2 linked regions of the Homo sapiens genome follow. The protein of the gene in region 1 binds, or shares a complex with, the protein of each later gene. Each region holds a gene or a part of one and is shown in the gene's direction. Other genes may lie near its edges.

What was found. Proteins that work in one complex are often made in the same cells at the same time.
Region 2: the proteins of ACAP2 (region 1) and RAB35 are in contact, whole or in part, in a crystal structure (PDB 6IF3), measured with the Homo sapiens proteins. Residues at the interface, in NP_036419.3 of Homo sapiens: Val715, Ala718, Asn719, Ala720, Asp721, Val723, Thr724, Arg727, Leu728, Arg730, Met731, Glu734, Met735, Ser738, Glu748, Thr749, Gln751, Arg755, Asp756, Gln759, Met760; in NP_006852.1 of Homo sapiens: Arg3, Asp4, Tyr5, Leu8, Ile41, Gly42, Val43, Asp44, Phe45, Ile47, Lys58, Gln60, Trp62, Phe70, Arg71, Thr72, Ile73, Thr76, Arg79 (codon at 681).

What each region holds. Positions count from the first base shown.
Region 1 is NC_000003.12:195,289,408-195,293,153, reverse strand, and holds part of ACAP2 (arf-GAP with coiled-coil, ANK repeat and PH domain-containing protein 2), read left to right. Parts: intron 1-701; coding exon 702-889; intron 890-1,338; coding exon 1,339-1,448; intron 1,449-3,746. UniProt on the Homo sapiens protein: GTPase-activating protein (GAP) for ADP ribosylation factor 6 (ARF6). Doesn't show GAP activity for RAB35.
Region 2 is NC_000012.12:120,096,082-120,099,827, reverse strand, and holds part of RAB35 (ras-related protein Rab-35), read left to right. Parts: intron 1-673; coding exon 674-798; intron 799-892; coding exon 893-1,017; intron 1,018-2,454; coding exon 2,455-2,583; 3' UTR 2,584-3,746. UniProt on the Homo sapiens protein: The small GTPases Rab are key regulators of intracellular membrane trafficking, from the formation of transport vesicles to their fusion with membranes.

The sequences.
Region 1 (3,746 bases):
CAGAGTAATTAACCTATCCCTTGGATACTGGCAAGAACAGAAAGGCCTGGCATATCAGTGATTGTCTTTATAGAAGAAGAAGGTTGAATGTTGGGGAATAGCTATGTGAAAATCTCCCATAAGCTCATTATGATAGATTAATGGTTTCTTATGTCATAGCTTTATTTTTTAAAAATTGCAATAAAATGCACATAAAATTTATCATCTTAACTTTTTTTTTTTTTTTTTTTTTGAGACTGAGTCTCGCTCTATTGCTCAGGCTGGAGTGCAGTGGTGCAATCTCAGCTCACTGCAACCTCTGCCTCCCGGGTTCAAGTGATTCTCGTCCCTCAGTCTCCCAGGTAGATGGGATTACAGGTGCCCGCTACCATGCCTGGTTAATTTTTGTATTTTTAGTAAAGACGAGGTTTCACCATGTTGGCCAGGCTAGTTTCAAACTCCTGACCTCAAGTGATCCACCCCCCTCGGCCTCCCAAAGTGCTGGGATTGCAGGCGTGAGCCACCGTGCCTGGCCCATCTTAACCATTTTTAAGTGTACAGTTTAGTGGCATTAAGTATATTCCCATTAGTGTGCTATCTTTACTGCCATTCATCCACAGAACTCTTTTTATCTTGCAAAACTGAAACTCTACCTATTAAATAATTTTTTCTTTTTCTGCCAAGAGCTCATTTTTATTGATGTGTATGTGTTTGCTTTTCAGAAGGAGAAAGGCAAGATTCTTCTATGTTTCTTGACTCGAAACATCTTAATCCAGGACTTCAGCTTTATAGGGCGTCATATGAAAAAAACCTTCCTAAAATGGCTGAGGCTTTGGCTCATGGTGCAGACGTGAACTGGGCCAATTCAGAGGAAAACAAAGCGACACCACTTATTCAGGCTGTATTAGGGGTATGCGTTTATACAATGACATTTTCAGTAGCAATCAAATATTTAAAAAAAATCATAATATGTTCTGAACTGGCTTTAGTATTGTCTTTGCTTCAAGAGATGGGTTAGAAAATAGAAGGAACCTCTGTGCTATTAATAGTAGTGGTTTCTGAGCACCACTTCGGTTGTTTCAAGTTTTTTTGCAGTGGAAGAGAATTCCGATAATGAAAGTATATAATGTGTTTTGCTAGTTCACAAACTGCAAATGAATCTCTATTAGAATTAGTTCTTGGGAAGAAAATAATATAATTTATAATTTCTCTGCCTTGGCTGAGGGATATTTTTTGTTTTGGAGAGAAGGAAATGGAAATGCTATTTGAGTAACGAAAACCAATTGTTTTTAAAAAGAAATGTATTGTTGTTTCTTGTTATTTGCTTTTGTCTATAGTTATCCTCTTTTTTCCTTTAAGGGCTCTTTGGTGACGTGTGAGTTCCTCCTACAGAATGGTGCTAATGTCAACCAAAGAGATGTCCAAGGGCGGGGACCATTGCACCATGCCACCGTCTTAGGGCACACAGGGTAACTGCAGTGCTTTCATATTTAAGGAGACTTTATTTGAAAAATTATTTTGAATTAATGTTTTAGTTTTTCTTAGGTTAAAGTTTTCAGGTAGTGTTTGTAAAGAGATGTGTTCCATGACTTATTTTGTCACGATGGAATTTGAAAGTTAAAAAAAATCTCTTTCAGAAAAAGCTACTATTGGTTTTCAGATACAAAAATTTCAAGGCTTACTTTGACCTTAACTTGTCATTAAATAGATCAGTTTTAGTACTTAACTTTCTCTGTTATTAAAATTGTGATTTTGTCAGACAACTTAAGCCTGTGTTTGTGTTTATGTATGTATGTACATATACATTATTTCCATAGCATGCACACACATAACCTATTTAAAGATAATTTGATGACTTTGTAATTTTTAGTTTTTTCCACAGGGTAGCTAAAGTCAAATTCTAAACTAAATTCTTACTTTGGGTTGTTGACATTGTGTCTTCTGGAGCGATAGTAAGATTCACAGAACAATAAAGCCTTGAAAATGGACTTTCTATTATTAGGAAGTATACATGAAAGAAAATGCTGGCTTTATGTGAAAAATTTGTGTCTTAAACGCTTGTTTCTTAATAAGATATCTCAGGGTATCCGATTATTATGTGGTGGATAAGCAAGAAGCTCTTATTTTGAAATATTTTTAAAATAGCATCTTCATTTATTTAGAGACAGGGTCTCGCCCTGTTGCCTAGGCAGGAGTGCACTGGTGCAATCATAGCTCACTACAGCCTTGAACTCCTAGGCTCAAGCGATCCTCCCCTAGTAGCTTGGGTTATAGGTGTGAGCCACTGTGTCTGGCTATTTTTATTTATTTATTTATTTATTTATTATTTATTTATTTATTTATTTATTTATTTATTTATTTTGAGATAAAGTCTTGCTCTGTCACCCAGGCTGGAGTGCAGTAGCACGATCTCAGCTCACTGCAACCTCCGCCTCCTGGGTTCAAGCGATTCTCCTGCCTTAGCCCCCTGAGTAGCTGGGATTGTAGGTGTGCACCACCATGCCTGGCTAATTTTTTTGTATTTTTAGTAGAGACGAGGTTTCATCATGTTGGCCAGGCTGGTCTTGAACTCCTGACCTCAGGTGATCCACCTGCCTCAGCCTCCCAAAATGCTGGGATTACAGGTATGAGCCACTGCGCACGGCCATGTCTGGCTATTTTTATCATGGCTTGTTTTCTTCTATCAGCAAAGAGATTCAGTCAGATAACTTCATCGTTTAAACTTTCTACACTTAAAAAAGGTAGTATTTAAGGTAGTACTTAACTCATCCTTTGTATTTTCTTCTTTTTTTTTAAGAGATGGGAGTCTCACTATGTTGCTCACGTTGGAGTGTGGTGACTGTTCATAGGCACATTCATAGCTCACTACAGCCTTGAATTCTGGGGCTCAGGATCTTCATGCCTCAGCTTCCCAAGTGGCTGGGACTACAGGCATGCCCTGCCACTCCCGGCTAATTTTTAAATTTTTTTTAGAGACATTTTGCTATGTTGCTCAGGCTGGTCTTGAACTTCTGACCTCAAGTGATTCCCCCTACCTCTGCCTTCTGAGTAGCTGAGATTACAGGTGCTTACCTTGCCCAGCCATTATTTTCTTCTTAAACTATCAAAATTCTTTCCATTTTATTTCATAGACTCCATTTAGTTATTCTTTCATATTTTAGATTTCTTTTTCAGTTTATTCAAGTAATGAATATTTGCAAGTACAGCAAGCAGATTACTTCCCATTCTTTGCTGTTGTATTATTATTATGAAGTTTACATTGCCTTGGCTTTCTTCATTTTCAAATAATGACCTTGAGTGATCTTTTTTTCATTTAGGTTTATAGATACCTGTGCACATGTTTTTATGATATTCTTTTTTTTTTTTTTTTTGAGACGGAGTCTTGCTCTCGCCCAGGCTGGAGTGCAGTGGTGTGATCTCGGCTCACTGCAAGCTCCGCCTCCCGGGTTCACGCCATTCTCCTGCCTCAGCCTCCTGTGTAGCTGGGACTACAGGCGTCCGCCACCACACCCGGCTATGTTTTTTTTTTTTTAATTTTAGTAGAGACGGGGTTTCACCTTGTTAGCCAGGATGGTCTCGATCTCCTGACTTTGTGATCCGCACACCTTGGCCTCCCAAAGTGCTGGGATTACAGGCGTGAGCCACCACGTCTGGCCTTTTTATGATATTCTTTGAGGGTAGGGACCACAACTTATATATCCACCATGCTATCTATATAGCACCAGATTAAATAAGATAATGTATGCAAAAATACCTTGAGACTTGTG
Region 2 (3,746 bases), on another chromosome or scaffold:
GGTCTGGAGAGGAGAGTTGGGCCTCCCCTTCCTTCTGGCCTTCCTGGCTGGCCCTGGGCTCTGCATGTTTGGGGTGATGGCTTTGCTGGGCGCCCTCTCCCCAGCCATCCCTGGATGCTTGTGTGGCTTCCATGCTTTTCCTGCCACCTGCACAGATGAGCCAAGAGTAGCAGGAAGGGAGGTGCCTACCTGCCCCAGGGGAGGGGCACAGACTTTGCCAGGGCGTCATGATGGTGTGGCTTCTTGGAAAGGTTCTCTAAAACAGGTTTGAGGAGCAAATATTTTTTTGAATGTTCAAAGACAGTGATAACATGATGTCAAATACAAAAACTGCCTGATTTCCCAAAATAAAGCAAGAACTTCAAAGATGTTTCAAGCCTGCAGCAGACTCTGAACAGCAGGAGGTGACTCCTCAGACCTGCTCTGCTGCCCAGGGGCTGGCCCTCCCGCCCTGTTGGTGCCCCGGGCGGGCAGGGGGAGTCAGTGCTGCCGCAGTAGCCTCTCCTGCTGGCCTGTTGTGGCTCGGGGGCATCTGCCGAGGCTGAGTGAGAGCCCAGGCTCCAGGGCCACCCTCACCTTTTCCGGGTCAGTGTCCTGACGTGGGCAGGTGGGTCCCGGCAAGGGGGTGACTCCTGTCGGGGTTGACATGCTGCCGCACACTCTGGCCCTGCAGGTATTATCGGGGGACCCACGGGGTCATTGTGGTTTACGACGTCACCAGTGCCGAGTCCTTTGTCAACGTCAAGCGGTGGCTTCACGAAATCAACCAGAACTGTGATGATGTGTGCCGAATATTAGGTGAGGCTGCACTCAGGGCCGGGTCGGGGTTGGGTGGGAGAGAGGCAGCCGGCTGCGCCCCTCAGGGCTGCGCTGACTCTGCCTTCGTTTGAAGTGGGTAATAAGAATGACGACCCTGAGCGGAAGGTGGTGGAGACGGAAGATGCCTACAAATTCGCCGGGCAGATGGGCATCCAGTTGTTCGAGACCAGCGCCAAGGAGAATGTCAACGTGGAAGAGGTGAGGCCCTGGGCCACTGTGGCTCTGCCACACACCCGTGGCCGCCTTCTCCATGCTGCTGGCCTGCTTGAGGCATCTAAATGACCAACAGAAAATGTCATAGTAACTGCCATTTATTGAGTGCCTACTATGTGCCAGGCCCTTTAACGATCTTAGTTCATAGTTCAACAGTCCTCTGAGGTAGGTACAATTATACCCACATTTCAAATAGGGAAACTGAGGCTCCAAGTGTTGAAGTAACTCAAGGACCACCACCTGGCTAGTAAGAGACTGAGTAAACCTCTGTCCCACACCAAAGCCAAGCACAGTTTCCACTCCAGTCCTCTGCCTCATTGGCCGCCTTGTGCTGTGTGGAGCCCAGAGGCCTGTGGAAGTCGAGGATCCCACTGCTTCAGGGCACAGGGGCCACACAGCAGCGGGCACAGGCTCCTTTGTAAGTCAGGCTGGTGTCCTGATGCTGGCCCATCCACCTGGGCCTGTGGGCAAGGCTGGTATGACCTTGGGCGGTGACTTCACCTCTCTGGGCCCCACATGCCATGAAGTGGCGTGGAGCAGGCAGACCCCGGGTCACCTATGTCCGTGAACAGCAGGGGCACTTTCATCTGTCATGTCATAAGATTCCAGCTGGGCCGGGCGCGCCGGCTCACGCCTGTAATCTCAGTGCTTTGGGAGGCCGAGGCGGGCGGATCACGAGGTCAGGAGATCGAGACCATCCTGGCTAACATGGTGGAACCCTGTCTCTACTAAAAATACAAAAAAATTAGCCGGGCGTGGTGGTGGGCGCCTGTAGTCCCAGCTACTCGGGAGGCTGAGGCAGGAGAATGGTGTGAACCAGGGAGGCAGAGTTTGCAGTGAGCTGAGATCACGCCACTGCACTCCAGCCTGGGCGACAGAGCGAGACTCCATCTCACAAAAAAAAAAAAAAAAAAAAGATTCCAGCTGAAGGAAAGGGGTTGGTCTCTCTAAAAGAAGGACTGGAAAACCCCTGTGAGATTGACTTCCCCAAGTCCACACAGCTCATGGGCCTCTGATGGTGTTCCTTTTTTCAGACTTATTTATTTGTTGAGTCAGGGTCTAACTCTGTCATCCAGGCTGGAGTGCAGTGGTGTGTTCACAGCCCACTGTAGTCTCGATCTCCTGGGCTCAAGTAATCCTCCCACCTTAGCTTCTCAAGTAGCTGGGACTACAGGTGTGCACCACCACTCCCGGCTAATTTTTGTGTTTTTTGTAGAGGTGGGGTTTTAGCAATGTTGTTCCTTTTTGACCTTTAAATAAAATAATTCACCACCTCCTTCTAGAATAGGCTTTGAAGACATACATACCAAAAATGCACAGGTAGAAAGAGCTGGGCCCCGGAAGGCGGGGAGGCAGCCGTGCAGGCCAGCAGGGGCCTCCTGGCCAGGTCTGAGGCGGGCCCTTCCTCTTTCCTCTCCACAGATGTTCAACTGCATCACGGAGCTGGTCCTCCGAGCAAAGAAAGACAACCTGGCAAAACAGCAGCAGCAACAACAGAACGATGTGGTGAAGCTCACGAAGAACAGTAAACGAAAGAAACGCTGCTGCTAATGGCACCCAGTCCACTGCAGAGACTGCACTGCGGTCCCTCCCCCAGCCCGAGGCCCACGGAGGTTCCTCGGGGGACAGTCTCAGTTTCGTGCCGTTATTTAAAGAATTCTCTCCATGTTTTTGTATCGGGAGGTGCCATCGGCACTTCCTCCCCCGCCCTCCTCGAGTGCCAAGAAGGTGTTGGACCAGCCCGCCCTTCCCTACTGGTGCCCCCTCCTCCCCGGCCAAGGCGCCTGGACCTGGCGAGGACGCTGCCCGCCGAGCGGACTGATTCGCAGAGTCTGTACATAGTGTATATTGCTCTACCCGGCCGCACACCACGTCCTGCTCTGGCTTTTGCCTTCTTGATGCCAGCCTGCTGCAACAGACCCTCCCCGCGCCCCTCCCCAGCCCATCTTACTGCAAGCAGCGTCCTGAGGAGACAGCGGCACGTTCTAGCTGCGTCTGCGGCCAGCCCGTGCCAGTGGAGTGGGCTCCGCGTTGCTCATTCTCTCCGACAGGTTGTCAGCCTCTGTCCCCGCTGCACAGGGTCTTGCCCCTTCTCCGGGGCCTGTGCCAGCTCCCTTCCCTCCCCGTTGTCCTGTCCCCACAGCCATTCTGGGAGCTGGGGAACCTGGTCTCAAGGCAGGCCCTGCAGTTCCACAGAGGTGGCAGGTCTTGCCCTTTGGCCAACAGATTTCTTGTCCTGCCTTCTAGATGCCTCTGAGCTCCAAACCCAGGGCAGCCATGGCTTCTCATTTACACCAACAGGTTTCAGTTCCAACAGAAAGGTCGGGGTAGGTTCGTGCAGAGATGGGGCTGGCAGGGGGGCTATGGGAGGATTATTTTAACAGATCAAGAAAATGAAGCCAAATCAAGTGAATTAAATTCCTCACAATTATTTTCTTTCCCTGAGGTTTGATTGGCACAGCAGCAAAAGTTGAGGCCACCCCACTTGTGTCCACTGTTTTTAGAAAAAAATGAATGGCTTCCTGCCATTGTGGGGCTGGACTCTTGGGCTTTCTTGGTGGGAGCGGAGAAGGGGCCTCCCACCCTTGTCCGAGTTGCCTCCCACTGGAGGTCAGGAGTCTACACTGCAGCCTCGGGCACTGTGGGGAGTGCATGCCTGGGGCCTCTGGGTGGGGACCATGGACAGGCCCTGGTCACTGTCCTAACCTTTGTCA